Regions from separate parts of the Homo sapiens genome. Here region 2 is linked to region 1. The links come from fine-mapping of genetic effects on gene expression. A gene starts in region 1. The other region holds a variant in brackets. All regions are shown on one strand. Distances are between the middles of the regions. Region 1 holds the start of IRF6 (interferon regulatory factor 6). Region 2 overlaps UTP25 (UTP25 small subunit processome component).

Evidence for each region. PIP is the estimated chance that this variant, and not a neighbour inherited with it, causes the effect.
Region 2: its variant is fine-mapped to the expression of IRF6 in whole blood (INTERVAL, PIP above 0.99).

What each region holds. Positions count from the first base shown.
Region 1 is chr1:209,802,057-209,810,381 of GRCh38, reverse strand. IRF6 (interferon regulatory factor 6) reads left to right here and starts at 4,240. Exons shown (of 9, transcript NM_006147.4): 1 at 4,240-4,435. RefSeq lists a silencer at 3,975-4,318.
Region 2 is chr1:209,842,685-209,851,058 of GRCh38, reverse strand. It overlaps UTP25 (UTP25 small subunit processome component), which reads right to left. Exons shown (of 12, transcript NM_014388.7): 10 at 8,364-8,374; 11 at 7,363-7,608. Among named protein-coding and RNA genes, the nearest start is that of UTP25, 19 kb to the right of the region's middle. The variant T/A (reference allele first, on the strand shown) is at 4,349.

The DNA.
Region 1 (8,325 bases):
TTCTTTTATGCTTCCTGCCATCTTGGTGATTCTAGAATTTGGAGGCCATTATAGAGTGCAACAACCAGAGTGCATTCAGTTTAGGCTGTGGCTTAGGCAATGTGTTAGGATCACCTGTGGCCCTGATGCTTTAAGATACTTGGATGGAGACAGAGATAAGCCAGGGCCAAGAGAAAAGTGAGGGTAGACCTGATGGGCTCCAGAATGCCTTCCAGAAGGAAGGTTGGAGTCTGATTTCCTTTGAAAGCACAGAATTGGATTGTTTAGTGCAATGTCCCTACCTGACTCTTTAGCAACTCCACCAAAGGTGCACAGCTTCTTTGCTATCACCAACTCCAGTAACACTAAACTCTCCACTGTATGGAGCCTTTGGGAGGAGTCCCAGTTGCCACGCTTTCTGCTCTGCCAAGAAGAGAGTGGGATTTGGGTTCATGGTTTTATTGTCACATGTCTGATATTGTAGAGTTTAAAGTCTCTGGGTGGAAAAAGAAACTCTTTCCTACCAAATGAGAGCTGACTGGGAACAGGAGAGGGGAATTCCCTCATTCCCTGTGGCTGTGAATCAGGGCCCCCGTGCTGAAATGTACGTCCCACTACCTGAAACTCAGACTCACTAGTGAGTCAGCAATGCCGCACCTGATTATCAATGGAGGGCAAAATGATGGGAGCATTGCAGGCCCAGGGCATGTTGGGAATGACTGAATCCTGAAGAGGCTCTTTTGAGAATACAGAAGAACTGATTCCTCAAGAGCTTGTGGAAAGACTCACAAGATGTTCTTATTCCCCAGATCAAGCAGATGAGGCGTGTATCAGAATAGAAGACATCAGGGTGGCCTATTGTCAGGGCTTGTTGCCTGCAGAGCCGGGGAGTTCCTCCTGATCTCTACCTTAATTCCACCTGCTTTACCCCCTTTCATTAATTCTTCAGTTGAGTGACATGAGAGTAGGGACTTGGTTTTGTTTATGGCAATATCAACAATATCAACAGTACCTAGATCCATGGGTGATTTTTTTTTTTTTTTTTTTTGAGATGGAGTTTCCCTCTTGTTGCTCAGGCTGGAGTGCAATTGTGCAATCTCGGCTCACCGCAACCTCCACTTCCTGGGTTCAGGCAATTCTCCTGCCTCAGCCTCCCGAGTAGCTGGGATTACAGGCATGCGCCACCAAGCCTGGCTAATTTTGTATTTTTAGTAGAGTTGACCATATTGGTCGGTCCGGTCTCCAGCTCCTGACCTCAGGTGATCTGCCCGCCTCAGCCTCTCAAAGTGCTGGGATTACAGGTGTGAGCGATTGCACCTGGCGATTTTTTTTTTTAAATCGTTAACAGCCAGTGCAGAACAGGTCAGAATAGACTTTGGCTGCGGAGCTGAGCAGGGGTCCAAGTGGATAGAGCCCCGGGTTTGTGTTCTAGTCTTGGTTTGTGGCTAATATGCCATGTGACCTTGAGTAAATCACTTGACCTCGCTGGGCCGCAGTTTTCTCATCTATGAAAAGGGAGAATTTAGACTAGAAGTTGCAATCAGATGCCTACAGGGTCAGGCAATTAAAGTAAATTAGTGAGCTCAATAGAGTGAGTTTGTATTGGCTGTAACGTGTAGACTCCCTCTAAATGGGCAACTGTTGCCAGGTAGAACTGCTGGTAGAGCATCCAGGGCACTTGACTCTTTAAGAGATGCTGAGAATTTTGATGTTTATGTGATACCTCCTGATATTTAAAATACTGTGTGGGTAAAAACTGGCTAAGTCAGTTTTAGTCTTGATCTAGATAGTCCAGAAGAACCCTCCCAGCTTGAGTTTTCTGATTCCAAAATATATGTCTTCTAAAGAAGGTCCTTAAGACATCCCCTTAGTCATGGGAATTTCAGCTGGTGCAAAAGTGAGTGCCTGTGTGTGGGCTCATACTTGTATGCCACTGGGGTTTTGACTCCCCTCAAATGACACTCTCCCAATGGCCTTACCCCTCATCCCTCTCATACACCTGCAGTGGAGCTTGTTTGGTCCCCAGAGCCCAGCCCTGGGCCAGATGGAAGATGCTGTTTGTCTAGTGAGCTCATCAGCAGTAAACAGCTAGCTGTGCTGATGAGCTTGCCCTTCCCCCAGTGAAGGGAAGAGTGGCCACAGGGCAGTGGTTGAGACAGAGGCTGGCTGAGTCAGGCCTTGGGGCCTTGCTGCCTTCCCAGGCCTTTGCTGGCTACATTCCAAAGCTAAATTGGGACTTGGAATCATGCCTACATTATTATCAATCTGGGGCTCTTCAACACACTTGTATGAGTATGCTAGGGCTACCATAACAATGTACCTCAGAGTGGGTGGCTTGAACAACAGAAATTTTTTGTTTCATAGTTCTGGAGTTTAAAAGTCTAAAATCAAGGGTCTGAGGGATGTGAAAAAAAAAAAAAAAAAAAGAGCTCTATTCCAGGTATCTCTCCTTGGGTTGCAGCTAGCTGTCTTCTCTTTATGTCTCTTCATATCACCTTCCCTCTGTGGGTATCTGCCTCTGTGTCCAAATCTCCTCCTTTTATAAGGACACCATTCATATTGGATTCAGGCTCACCCTAATAACCACGTTTTAACTTGATTACCTCCATAAGGATCCTGTCTCCCAATAAGGTCATATTCTGACATCTGGCTGTGGTTGCAGTGGGGGTGGTCAGGACTTCAAAATACAAATACAAATTTTTTTGTATGTGGGTGACAGTTCAACTCATTGTACCACTCCTCCACAGTTTCTCACTCATTACTTTAAACACCAAAACCTAAGTGACCTGCGCATGCCCCATTTCACCTACGACAGCTCAGTGGTTGAGGGTGGGGGATTTTTAAAAGTCTCATTTACTGTTGCACAGCCTCCTGCAAACCGGTCCTCTAGATAGATGAGGAAGGTGAGGGCAATCTCATCAAGCACCTGTTAGGGTACATGCAGGACTTGAATTTCAGGTAATAACAAGGAATGCCTTCTTGTTCTCTGACGCACTGTCTATATGGTATTTTTAATCTTTATGCCAATAATAATTGCAAGTACATATAAAGCACTTGATAAGTGCTAAATATTGTTGCAAGCAGTTTACATGTAGTTATTGAATTCCCACAATACCCCTGAGGTAGGTACTATTACTAACCTCTTTCTACAGATAAGACACCAGGGCCTAAAAAGCTTAAGAAACTTTCCCAAGTCTGTAGTAACTGATGGAGTTGGGGTCTAAACCCCAATAGTTGGCTCCAGAGGCTATGCTTTTACTCATTACACGATAGTGATCAGAGGAAGCAGGAACTCCAGTCTGGGCAACATAGTCAGACCCTGTCTCTAAAAAAAAAAAAAAAAAATTAGCCGGGCATGGTGACCCATGCCTATATTTCCAGTTACTTGGGAGGGTGAGGTGGGATAATTGCTTGAGCCCAGGAGGTTGAGCTATGATTGTGCCACTGCATTCTAGCCTGGATGACAGAGCCAGACCCTGCCTAAAAAAAAAAAAAAAAAAAAAAAAAGGAATTGAACTGGGTGCCAGTGCCTGTAATCCCAGCACTTTGCGAGGCTGAGGCGGATCCCTTGAGCCCAGGTGTTGCAGACCAGACTGTGTAACTTAATAGCAAGACCCCATCTCCAAAAAAAAAAAAAAAAAAAAAGGAAGAAAAAAGAAAGAGAAAAAAGCAAACAACAACAAAAAAGAAGGAAGGAATTATTATTCTCATTGAAGAGATGAGGAAACTGAAACCAAGAAGCCAAGAAGCTAAGTAACTTACCCAGGGTCACACGGGTAAGAGGCAGAGTAAAGGTAGAATTCTAGTCCTGAAAGCCTATGGCTTCTCCCAGACAGGACCAAGTGTCCTGGTTCTCTTCTTCATGTGCAACTCCACTTACACAGGCCCACGAGTAGTAGGGCCAACCCAGAATCTCAAAACCCTTATTTGTGCTTAACTGTCTGCATACTGCAGGGTAATTATGGGCCGTGAAGGAGGGAGGCACCCTCTCGACTTAGATCTGAACTCCCAGTCGCTTCCAGTTCCCAGGACCACCAGCCCTGAGCCGTAAGGCTAGGCCTGAATCTGGGACTTTCTTAGCCGGAGTTAGAAGCGGAGGAGTAGGGTGGGACGCTGGACGGACGCCGCTGGGCCGGGCAGCCCAGAAACGCGGAGTGTCATATTTCTTGCAACTCGCCAATCCCGAACGCCGGGGGGCGTGGCCACACCTGGGAGGCGTGGCCGGGCGGATGCGAAGGCTGCGGCGTCCTGGGGCGAGGCGCTGACGTGAGCTCGGCGCACCTGGGCTGGGCAGGTAAGGGCTGGTGCGGGACGGGGAGAGGAACCTGCAGTCCCTACTTGGGTAGAGCCAGGCGCCCCTTGGCTAAGACGTCGAGGAGCGTGGTAGCGACGGGTGATCTTCGCTGCGGACTTGGTTCGGAGGGACGTCCGCTTCTGGTGGACAGATTGAGCAAAGGTGGGTACGCCAACTTCTGGGGACCAGCTTGAGGGAGGAGAGGCTCCCCCGTGGGTGGGGTAGGACCCATCCCCGGAGTTTGTAGGGGGTGAGAGAACTTGCTTGGGGGCATCTGTGTGTTTGGGGTGGGTACCCACTGGGGCTGGGTGCCTGTCGCCCTTTTCCAGATAGCTTTGGGGCGGCCTCAGTTCTGTAGCGCTAGGCCCCTCTCGAATCTACACTTGTGTCTACTCTCCCTACCCCCACCGCCGAAGCGGAGGGCACTGCTCTCGGCCGTCAACAACCCCACTATCCGGTAGAGCTAAAGCACCGCGCCCCCTTCAGTCTTACCAACTTGCGGCTGGCCCCTGTGTCCCAGAGAGGGGACTTCCCAGGTCCGCAGGTCCTTGATCCTAGTGGGCGTTTTGGGAAACTGGAGTGAGGGTGGCCAGGAGCTTTGGAGCATTGGCGGTTTGTCTTCCCTCCCTGAGTCTGTTTGGCACAGTTAGGCCCTTCGCCCTGGGCCTGGGAGACAACCTTGGATTTCCAAGGAGCGGAGCTAGGTGCTGGGGAGGGTGGCGCTGGGGTGTGGTTGCTCTGGGGGTGGGCCCTCTTTGCCCGAAGGGGCTGGAGGGTGGTGTGGAGAATGGGGAAAGTCTCCCAGGCCTGACTTGGAAAGGAGGCCTGAGGTGTCACTCTTTACAGGGAGCCTGCTTTGTGGTAAAGGGGTCATCCTGTTCCAACCTGTTCTCTTGGTGGATGTCAAGAGTGGAAGTCAGGGAAAAGAGATGGATAGAGAGAGGAAGGCGCTTGGGTGGGATTGGTGAAAGCTGGTGTTGACCCAGGAGTGTGGTTTAGGATGAGACGTGTGTATGATGTATGACAGTGGCACTCAATACCTTGTAACTCCCATTCGCCATCCCCCAGCTTCCATCCAGCAGAAGGGAAGGGTGTGGGCATTTTGACTAGAGGCCTGCAGTTTACCCCTAAGCAGGGCTAAACAGGGAAGCCTGAGGAACGGAACTTAGACGATGGCATTTCATTTCTTTCAGGAGAAAGGGAAGAGCTGGGACTGCTAAGAATTGTCTGCGAGAAATGGCGTGTGTTTTAACCTGAGCAAAACCACTGACGGCCAAATCTCGGCTTTTGTGTGGCAGTGCCCCTGGAAACTAGTCTGGGGAGGAGCTATGGAGGTGGCAATGAGGGTGTTTATGGAGGACCTGCTCCCTAGAATAGGGGTATGGGAGAGGACAGTTATGCTCGGAGGAGGCTGAAAGTGTCCCTCCTCTATGCTCACTGTGAGGGGAATAGATAGGTTAGCATCATTGTCCTTTGGCTGTTTAAGTACCTGTTAGAGACACAGGCCTTACATTTTGCTGTGATGGCAGCTAGAGATACCAAGATGAGTTCAACTAGGCTAAGGTGGTTCTTCAGGCGTTGGGATTTGGGTGGCAAGAGTGTTTAGAAAGAGAACTCTGATTTAGGTGTGTTTGAGAGTGGATGTTATGCAGTCTCCACCTCAATCACTTTATTGGCCCTCTATGCTGCTGGGATCTTTGTTGATGTTTTTAGTTTACTTTCTTGGTGCGCAGAAGATGAGAGGGACATGGAAGACAAGGTGCAGTGGCAGGGTTTGGTACAGAACACTGTGACTTAGGAAATAAAGCACCTCAGCCCAGATGTAAAATGGGGATAGTAATATCACATTCAGGTTTATGAGGATGAAATCAGACATGTTAGGTAAAGGTTCATGTAAAAATTGTAAAGCCTACACAGATACAAAGGATTGTTGTTACCATCCTTCATAAGAAATGTCTTATTGTCCTGAGGTTAAGAAAAAATTACTTGTAGTTTTTTAAATTATAAATTGAAACATATCATTGTAGGAAAATATGAATCATATATAATGTATATGGGAGAATGTAAAAAGCACCCATAGTTGCATCACTAGATAACCATTACAAATATTTTGTTGCATTGTTGTATTTATTTCCTTTTTTCAGTTCTGTGTGTATGTGCACATGTATGCAAGTATATGCTGTGTTACAAGATGGAGATAGTGCTACACAGTCAAGTTGTATGCTGTTTCCCCCTGCCCCCACAACTTCATATTGTAAACATTTCCTTGAGTATAATACAAATTCTGACACCTGTTGTTAATGGCTACTTAATATTGCAGCCTGTGGTTGTGACGTAATGAATGTTTCTGTCTTGGCCATTTGGGTTTTCAATTGTTCCATCTCTGCCTGTTTTTAGACTTGTAGTTACTGGGTGGTGAGTGGGGGAGATCTTGGCTGACTTTCAGAAGGTGGAGAGGGTTTACAGTGAGAGAGGCAGGGCATGGGCTTGGAGGAGGGCAGGCTGGGGCTCCTTCCATGGGGCTGAGGCAAGGCTGCTCTTGTGTAGTCCCATCTTAGGAGAACACTGAGAACCCAGGGCTCTAGATCTTAATCACTGATTTCTGTGGGTGGCTGCTTCTCCTTTCCCATCATCAGGTGCAGCTCCTGGTCTTGGCCTGATTGCCTTAATTTTTGCATGGTGGGATTTGGATCAACTACAATAAGTCCTTTTGGACTTTTCTTCCAGTCCACTATCAGTCAAGAGTTGGATTTTAATGTCTGACAGGCCCAAACACAGCACTTACCAGTATTGCAATGGAAATTCTCAAAAGCTCTTTACTAGATTGACTGGTTTGGTGCCTATTTCCCTATCCTCTTTTTCCTTCTCTTGCTCCATCCCCCTTTCAGTAGTGATAGGACTGGGGAGCAGAAGGTAGAACTAGCCGTTGAGAGAATATGCATCCCCTCCTCCTTATAAGGCTTATAATGCACTCCATGGTTTGATGGTTTCACATGCTGCCCTACAAAACACCGTAATTCAAGGCCAACTACATGGGGGTACTTGAACACTGCGTGCCAACCTGACCTACCCACTATGCTCCCAGGGGGAAGGTTTCAGTTGCAGGACTTGGTAATTGGGTCAGAAAGCTCAGGTGAGAGCAGGTCTTGCCTTGCTCTTAAAGTGCCAGACGCTGAGTTGGGTTTGGGTTTTTCACATTTGTTGGGAGTCTGGCTGGGGAGAGAAGTGGTGTTATGGGCCACCCCGTCAGCTAAGCTCTTCTGAGTAGGAGCCTTCAGCTGACCCTTTTAACCTCTTTTCTTTCCCACCTGGCACAGTTTATTCCCATATTTAGCTGCTTTGCTGTAAGGTTGTTTGGTTTCAGAACTGTGGTCCAGGTAGGGATCTTTCTGGGTATGAAGGTGACCTATTTATCTTCCCCTCCTTCTCAGGCCATTGTGGGGCTTGAGAAGTTCCAGTGTGGAGTTTCTCAAGAAGGAACATGGAGCGTCAGTGTTTAGTAACTAACACCGTGCTTGGCACACAGTAGCTGATGAACAAATATTTGTTGAATGAGTGTTCTTTTTCCAGGCATCTCATTCTCATCTTAAGTAAAAACAAAATAAGAACACCAAAAAATCCAAACACAACATCTCAGACAAACAATTCTCCAGTGACTGTTTTTTTATCAGTCACCCAATCTGGGAAGGCTTTTGTTTTCTGCTGTGAGTGCCAGCTGCTCTTGAATGTTATCTGCTATGCCCATGTATTTTTACAAGAATCAATTGCAGACTTTACCCATGCTGGCTCCTGCAACCAATTGGTTCACTCCAGCCTTCACTGGGAGATAAACAGACCCAAGGGAGGAGGCTGTCCTAGCCATGCAAAGCTTGTCTCATGACTGCTTTTAGTACTCTAAGTACTCTTAGTACTTTAGTATTTGGTTATTCTAGGGCTTCTGAGCTTTACCAGACTCAGTAGTGGAGACGTGTTCTCAGCCTTTGTCGCCAGTGTTCCCAAGCCTTCTCCCAGACACTGGATTGTTGTATGGATAGCCAGCTGAGACCCCTCCT
Region 2 (8,374 bases), 41 kb before region 1:
ATTCTAACTTGAGGTGGCAACATATTTGAATTCTTTTTATGACAACATATTCGAATTCCTAATATTTGGCTTAAGAAAATGATAAAATAAATACACATTTCTTGATCCTACACTGGGTAGGCTGAGGTATCATGGGAAAGAATAGTAGACCAGGATTTAAAAATCTGTCACAGAAAACTTAAAAAGCAGGCACTTAAAATGGAACATTAGCCTTATTATAATCAGGCAAAAAAGAATGGAGACAAGGTCAGACCCAGTACATAAAATAAGTTGTACAGATTGTAAATACACTCCCATTAGTCTTTTCTTGCCACTCTGGATACATGTTAACTCCATGGCAGACGTCCCAAGTTCATCCATTTACAAAACCCTGCCCAAGGACCCACTAGGCATCATGAGAAAGCAATTAGTTTCAACAGCGTATGCATTTCCATCTCTTTCCCAGCTGCACAGTGCCGCCCTGTGGTGGGGGGTGGTGTACACCCAAGGGACTGACTTGCAGTATGGTTCAGTCAGGCTGACGTCAACCGTTCCCCTGTGGGATTCCATAACAAAAGATTTTATATGTTGACAAGCTTCTGATTTTTCCTGTTAAGTTTCTCTCATACACTGAAGACGTTAGACTCCCTTGGGGATTTTATTTCTTTCACAGAAGGTAAGTTTTCCTTGTCTTTTTCCCTCACAGCTCATCCTGATCTCTCTGGAGACCTTCCTTTCCCAAACCATGACTGTGATCTATTATGTGGTTCACCTTTCAACATCCTTTCCATAAAGAAGGAATTCTAACGGCTAATGAACTTGAATAAACTGTTCTACCTCACTAGTTCTCAAAACAAAAACAACACTGAGTTCTACTTCTGCTTAGAATGTATAAAACTCGAGAATATTGCTCCTATACCAATAAGAAAAAGTCAGATAATCTATTATACAAAAATGTTCCTTTTCTTGAGCCCAAAGAGCTACCATCATGAAGCAATCAGGTAACCTGAATTAGGTGGTGAGCTGGTGTATGTTTAATAATTGGTCCTCAGTGGGAGAAAGGGAGGGTGCTAATTTGAAGGATTTGTCAGTTTCAAGCTACCAATGTCATGCTGCTGACCCAGAGATGTGCAGCCAGGTCTCATGAGCCAGTGTGAGCCAGCTTCAGCTCACCATGGACTGAGTTCCAAAGAGTAGCCCTTCTGAGGAAAAACGGGACACAGGAACTACTGCACCTTAGGCAGAGCACAGGAGAAAGATGGCCTCTGCCAAAAAAGTGGGTAGTAAGAAAATAGATACACTTCTAACACATTCTTAAAGGGCAAGAATAGGCTTGCCTGACTTCAGGACCCCAGGGATCCCTGGATGCTCCTTTAGTTCACATCCACTCATGAGCTTGTTCCAGAGGCCTGCACTGGGAGCCCTGGAGAAAGCAGAAGACCCGAGGGAGACCCCACTGGTGGTAGGGACATGAAAGCCCACCTACTTCCCAGGCCCATTATCGTGAAACCCATGGTAAAAACGTGAAGCACACGGGGGAGAAGAAAGGAGCCACCCTGTCCCCCACCCCTAATCGCAGGCAGGCAAAGGCAAACCACTTGAGGGGGAGGGTGAGTAGAAGCAAAAGTTGTCTGCCCTTAAGGGAAGGGCAGTAAACCCCCACCCTTCCATTTGTCCCCCACACAAGACTTGTACCCAGTAAAAAGCATTCTGCCCCAGAGGAAGGGGTAAGAAACCTGTTCAGCCCAAGTTCCTGCACTGATACAAGCAGAGTTCGATTAGGGAAGAAGCTGTATACACTTCACCACAAAGATCCCTCACAGATAAAAGGTGGAGTCTGGCTGCCACGGAGGTAGCGGGGCAGGAACCCTGAGAAAACCTCACCCCCAAAGCTTGGAATAAAAAGGGCCTGCCAAAAATTGAGCTGGACCAGGAGAACCCCCTCCCCCCGACTTCATGCCTTGCAAGGAGAAACAAGAGGCCTCCTGTGAGGAGGGGTCTGAGTGTGGAGTGAGACCCTCCTCTGGCACACGTGTCAAGGCCTCAGTGACAGCTGAGCAATCAGGACACTGAGAAAAACCCTCCAGCACCCGAGACCCTACACCAAGCCCACTGTCTGCTGGAGGAATTTGAGGTCTGTGGTGTTGGGAAGGTATCTACAGTAACAATCAAATCCTGACTAGATTGATAGCACCCACACCAGTGGCCTACGGAAGGGGTGCGGCCGGACATAAGTATTATTTACTTCAGCCTCTACATTCCATTGAAAGTTATAGAAGACACAAAAAAGCAAGAAAAGACATCCAAACAATGAGGTATCATTTTGACTATCACATCAGTAGCAATAATTCAGTCTATGGAGCTTTGGAGAAATAGGTGAATGGAGCATAAATTACTTTGTCTATGAATTCAGGAGAAGATATGGAAAAGATGCAAAGGAGCAAATAAGTGGCAACGCATGACACATTTTTAACTGTGTACAGCCTCTGTGCTAACGAGTTTTCCTTTCAAAATCTATCCCAAGAAAATAACTAGGTAAGTATTTCATCAAAACATATGCATATGGATGTTTTGCGTATTATTATATACAACAGCAGAAAACAGAAAAAAAACCCCTATATGCCCACTAAAAGGAAGCTAGCTTAATTAACCAATGTAATACTATGTAGCCATTAAAAACAATGTGATGTTTACCTCACACGTTACTTATTAATTACATACACACACTAAGTGATTTTAGTGATTTGGCATCACCAAGAATGAGACAAAGTGACATTACGTGCCTTCTGATGAGATGAGGTAGAAAGTACGTAATATTCCCTAAGTAGAATTCTTATCAAAAGATATTTATTCTAAATCAGTCATCCCCAAACTGCTGCACATTGAAATCACCTAGCTGGTTGTTTTTTTATTTTTTTTATTAATACTTAGGTTTGGTCCCCATCCCAGACACTGCGATTTAATTGGTACTGGGATGTGACCTGGGCATTTGGATTTTTAAAAGCTTCTATTCTAACGTACGGCAAAGTTTGAGAACCACTGATCTAAATAACAAGGGAACAATTAGATAAATCCAGACTGTGAGACATACTGCAGGAAACCAGATTGGACTCTTCAAAAAGATGTCGATGTCATGAAAAAGTAAAAAAGCAAGAGAGTTATTCTGGATGAGGGTTTCTCAGTGTTAACACTGCTGACATTTTGAGACAGATAATTCTTTGTGGTTGGGGGCTGTCCTGTGAACGAAGGTGTTTCACAGCATCACTGGTCTCAACCCACTGGAACCACCAGAATAATCCTCCAGTTGTGATAACCAAAAATGTCTCCAGATATTGCCAAATGTCCCTGAGGGAGCAAAATTGTTCCCCAATTGAGAACTAAACTAGATTAAAGAAACAAAAGCAGTAAGTTAACCAAATGCTATATATGATCCTTACTGAATCCTTTTTGGCCGGAGGGGAAAGAGCTATAATGGTCATTTTGGTGACAACTAGCAAAATCTGAATATAGACTAGATATCAGATGATATTACTGTAGTAACATCAGGTAGCATGATAATGGTGCTATGGTTAGATAAAAGAATGTTTTTGTTTTTAGGAGCTACATGCTAAAATATTTAGGGGTGAAGTGTCAATGAAGACTCACGCTACTTTACTTTCAAATGGTTCAGGAAGAAAAAATAAGAGATGTGAGTGGGGATAGAGAGAAGATGGGTATGTGCAAATGTGATAAAATGAGAACAGCTGGTGGAATTTGGGGTAAAAGCATTTATAAATAAACAGATGTTTATTGTTAGTCTCTTAACAATTTTCTTTCACAATGAAATCTTTTCAAATAAAAACCTGGGGGAAGAGAGGATGTCGTAGAGCTATATATAGTAACTTAAAAATATACACAAAAATCCACAATATACAAATATACAGGCCAAAATGTTAGTCTTTGAATTTTTTTAAATGAGCACATAAAACATCTAAGACAAAGGAAAAAAAAATCCTTAAAACAAAAAAAGATCCTAATTTTAGTATTGTTTTTTAAAAAAACACGTGTGTGTGTGCACGTGTGCATGTGCACACATTTTTCACATAAAAAAGATGGAAAAAAATTACCAAAAAGAGTATTTATATCAGGGCAGTGAGATTTTTAACCTAAAATTTCCAATATCTCTACAATAACTGTGAAATACCCTCACAATCAGGAAAAACAAAACAATAAAACTGTTAAGTGTTATATTAAACACACACACATGAAAATCTGTCTCAGTCCCAATGCAACCACAATAGAGACTGAGTATCTCCTGGCAACAGAGAACATGGCCAGGGCCTCTTCCAAGGGGCAGTTAGTGGCAAGTCTCCATAGCTTGAGCACCCCT[T/A]ACCCTGCCTTCCTCCTCCCTTATATATGCTTTGTTTTCAGTGACTCCTACAAACACAGCCTAATCACCCTTACAGTACCTTCCACATGTCTATTTCACGAGCCACTGTTAAAGACAAATGAGGCAACCACAATGAACTTGAAAGACTGGCTCCTTCCTACGGTCCATAAAGACCAAGTCTACTACTTCTAGAACTGGGATTCTCCTGTAGGGGAAGGGAGTAATCAGAAATTCCCAGCAGCCTTTCCAAACTCCACAAATCCCACCTCCAGTTTCTGACTTGCCTCCTGGTTGAGATCCTCCCTGCTGTGGAAACCCACTGATAACGCACTGGAAAAGAGCTGTGACCCATCACTGGGAGGGCAATCATGACCAAATGTTCATCCAATTCTAAGATTCTGCTAGTTTAATCTTCCCCACATAAAACAAATCTTCAGGTTAAAAAATTTTTGCTAACTCAAAAATGAATTCTAATCTTCCTAACATTGCCAGCTGTCATAGAGAATATAAAAACAGAGTCAGATACTACAATATAAAATACATGTACATTTTCTGGCCGGGCACGGTGGCTCATGCCTGTAACCCCAACACTTCTTGGGAGGCTGAAGTGCGCAGATCACATGAGGCCAGGAGTTCAAGACCAGCCTGGCCAACATGGCAAAACCTCGTCTACTAAAAATACAAAAATCAGCCAGGCGTGGTGATGCAATTCTGTAATCCCAGCTACTCAGGAGGCTGAGTCACGAGAATTGCTTGAACCCAAGAGGCAGACGCTGCAGCGGGCCGAGATCACACCACTGCACTCCAGCCTGAGCAACAAAGTGAGACTGTCTTAAAAAAAAAAAAAGAAAAAGAAAAAGAAAAAAAAAGTACTTATTCTAAGGTCAAATTAAAAAAAAAAAAATCACAAAGGCACTGCACACCAAAACATCCATCATCACCTTGGTGATCTCTCGAGCAAAAAATTCTATAGCTGGAAACCTTGAGATAATTAGCTGTTGCAGAACTCTAAAGCACATTATTTTCATTCATCTTCTACAAAAGAAACACCAATTAACCTGGCCCAGGGCATAAAGCAAATGGCATATGCTGAGATTTGTCCTTATCGTGACTTTGAGGGCAACATGGCTTGGTAAATAGACAGTGTAATACAGGAGACTGTCCTGCTTACAAAGGGCTCCATGCCCTGTCCTTGAAAAGCTGCTGAGATATTAAAGAGCTTAATTCCCATCCCAGCTTAATTCACAGTTGCCATAGACAATCACACTGGGAAGTTTTCCAATCCATCCACTTCACTTAAAGGGCTTGCTTTCATTTGTCAAGATGATAGAAAGCTAAGAGCTTTTAAGACCTGATGAGTGCAACTTCCCCAAATACTTTCCAACATGAATGGAAACGACAACTTACTGGAACAGAGCAAATAATGAGGGCAACAAGCAGGCATTCATTAACACTCTTTGGCCAAGCAGCCTTCTCTGGGTAGCCAAGAATGGAGCCTGGGAAACACAAATTTAATCAATCCTCAACTCTCTAAGAGGTCATGCCATGCCAGCTTTGCTATGCCTAGGCAAGCTGCTGGGACGCCTCCCTCCCCATCCTGGGAACAAGGACGTTATCTGGGGAGCACCATCCTAATCGTTTTAGCATAAACTAAAAGGTAATGCAATGCCAAAGTGCATCATCTAATGTGCTCCAAAGCTTGGGAGATTTCTGGCGTATCTGTTTAGGATTCTCTGAGAAAATGCACCCATTGTGAGTTAATAAAACAGTAAAGTCAGAACTTAAATCCACTGGACATTATTGTGAAATCAGGATGAGGTAACAGAATGTAATTTACATAACTCTACAGGCAAGGGTTAAAAAAAGCCTTTTACATATTATGCAACCATGAAAATTGAAAATAAAAATCTAAAAAATAAAAAAGCTTTTTCTATTTATCAACAGAGAGAGACTTAGCAAAACAATAAAATACATGAGCTCTAGGGCCAGAAGGGCCGCCACTATCCCAAACAGTAATAGAAGGCTCAGTATTACTAACCCTCTAATTAGAGTTGGTTTTTTTTTTTTTTTTTTTTTTTGAGATGGAGTTTCGCTCTTGTTGCCCAAGCTGGAGTGCAATGGCACGATCTCAGCTAACTGCAACCTCTGCCTCCCGGGTTCAAGCTATTCTCCTGCCTCAGCCTCCCGAGTAGCTGGGATTATAGGCACACACCACCACGCTCAACTAATTTTTTATATTTTTAGTAGAAACGGGGTTTCACCATGTTAGCCGGGATGGTCTTGAACTCCTGACCACAGGTGATTCGCCTGCCTTGGCCTCCCAAAGTGCTGGGATTACAGGTGTGAGCCACTGCACCTGGCCTGAGTTTTTAAAAAAATAACATGAAGACCAATCAACTTATTTTGTCAAAGTCACCTGGTAGGAAATCTAAGCAAACGCTGAAACCCTTCAACATTCAACTTGAAGCCCTTACCCTTTTACCTCCTGCAAATGTCAAGGAGCCCACGGTCCTAGTTCTCCTTGGTAGGGAGTATCTGTGCATACCTCAGGAACACCGCAACTGTCTGGAAACTGACACTGTACTCAGCCTCCATCTCCCCAGAAAACACAGTTCTCAATGCTTTTGTCTGTGCACTGAGGGCAAACAGAGGGAAAAAGTCTAGACAGGGACAACTCAAGTGAATACAGGGAAGGTCCCTCCCCTTCCTTGTATTCATTTGAGTTGTCCTGTAATGTCCTTCTTGCAGTGTATAACCACAGCTACATGCCAGGTCTATAGACAGGGTATGCTTTGGTTTCTACATCCTTCTTCAGCAATGCCCATTTTGGGAGAAAACCAACTAACCAACCAAGAAGAGTCTGTCCAAACCAAAAACTCTCTGGCTACTTTGTAAGAGTGCGAGAGTGAGGGATGATCTCAACACCACGAAGCCTGCCATGCATTCAGAGCAGGCCATGATTTGTCCTGCACCTCCCCTTCAGAGAGGAGGCTTGAAACCTGGCACCACTTTACCTTTTGTAGAAATGGAAGCGCTCTGTGAAAAGTAGAAACTGTTTCTCTCCTTGAAGGAAGAAGTGTCTGGCCCTGGAGACACCAGACTTCTGCGTGTACTCGCAGATGTGGGTAAAATTCAATTCCTCCTTCTTGAAGTAATTTCGAAGACGCACGAAGTCAAAGTAGGAGGGGATATAGATGAGCGTGTGAGACATGACTGCATCACGATACTGTGGCAAAATCTTGTTCACAAAAAAGTTAAACCTGATTTGGAATGGCAAAGGGCAAAATTAATGTCTAGAGCTAAGCTTATGGTGTCTCTTAACTGTGTGACCCTGAGCAAATTACAATCTCGTGTTAAAAGATTACCTCCCCAGAGGCCAATATGATTTACCTCCTCTCAAAGAGATTATGTAAGGATAAAACTTGATAAGCACACTAAAAAAATAAGTGTCAACACTATTCATTGTAAAAAACAGATGTAATACCATTATATCCCAGAGAATTACTCTAGGAAGTACACACCACACTATTCAGTCAGTCAGTCAGTCACTCAGTCACTCAGTCCAACAGTCAACAAATAATCACTGAACATCTACCATATACTAAGCCTCACTAAGCTTCTTTGGGGTCCCCTAACTAAACACAATGAAGAAAAAGGGGGAAATTATACAATTAGAAAAATAGTTCTTTCCCTGAGGGGCTTACAATTAACTTGCTGACATGAGACACTTTGTAGCATAAAGCTGTATAATTTTAAAATGCCACAGTCAAGAGTGAAAGAGTCCTGATTTATAGTAATAACCCTGCTACTAACTAGTTATGAGACCTAGGCCAAAGTCACTATTTCTCTCTGTGCTTCAGTTTCCTCCTCTGACAAATGACATAATTAAGTTCAATTATCTCAACTGATTTGGTAGTTATCAATAAAAGCAAAATGGAATCCAATTCTAGGTTTGTATGCCCAAGTCAAATCTCTCTATGTGGTCCCCAGGGGCCTGCTGGGAGGAGTGGGTTACCTGGCATCAAT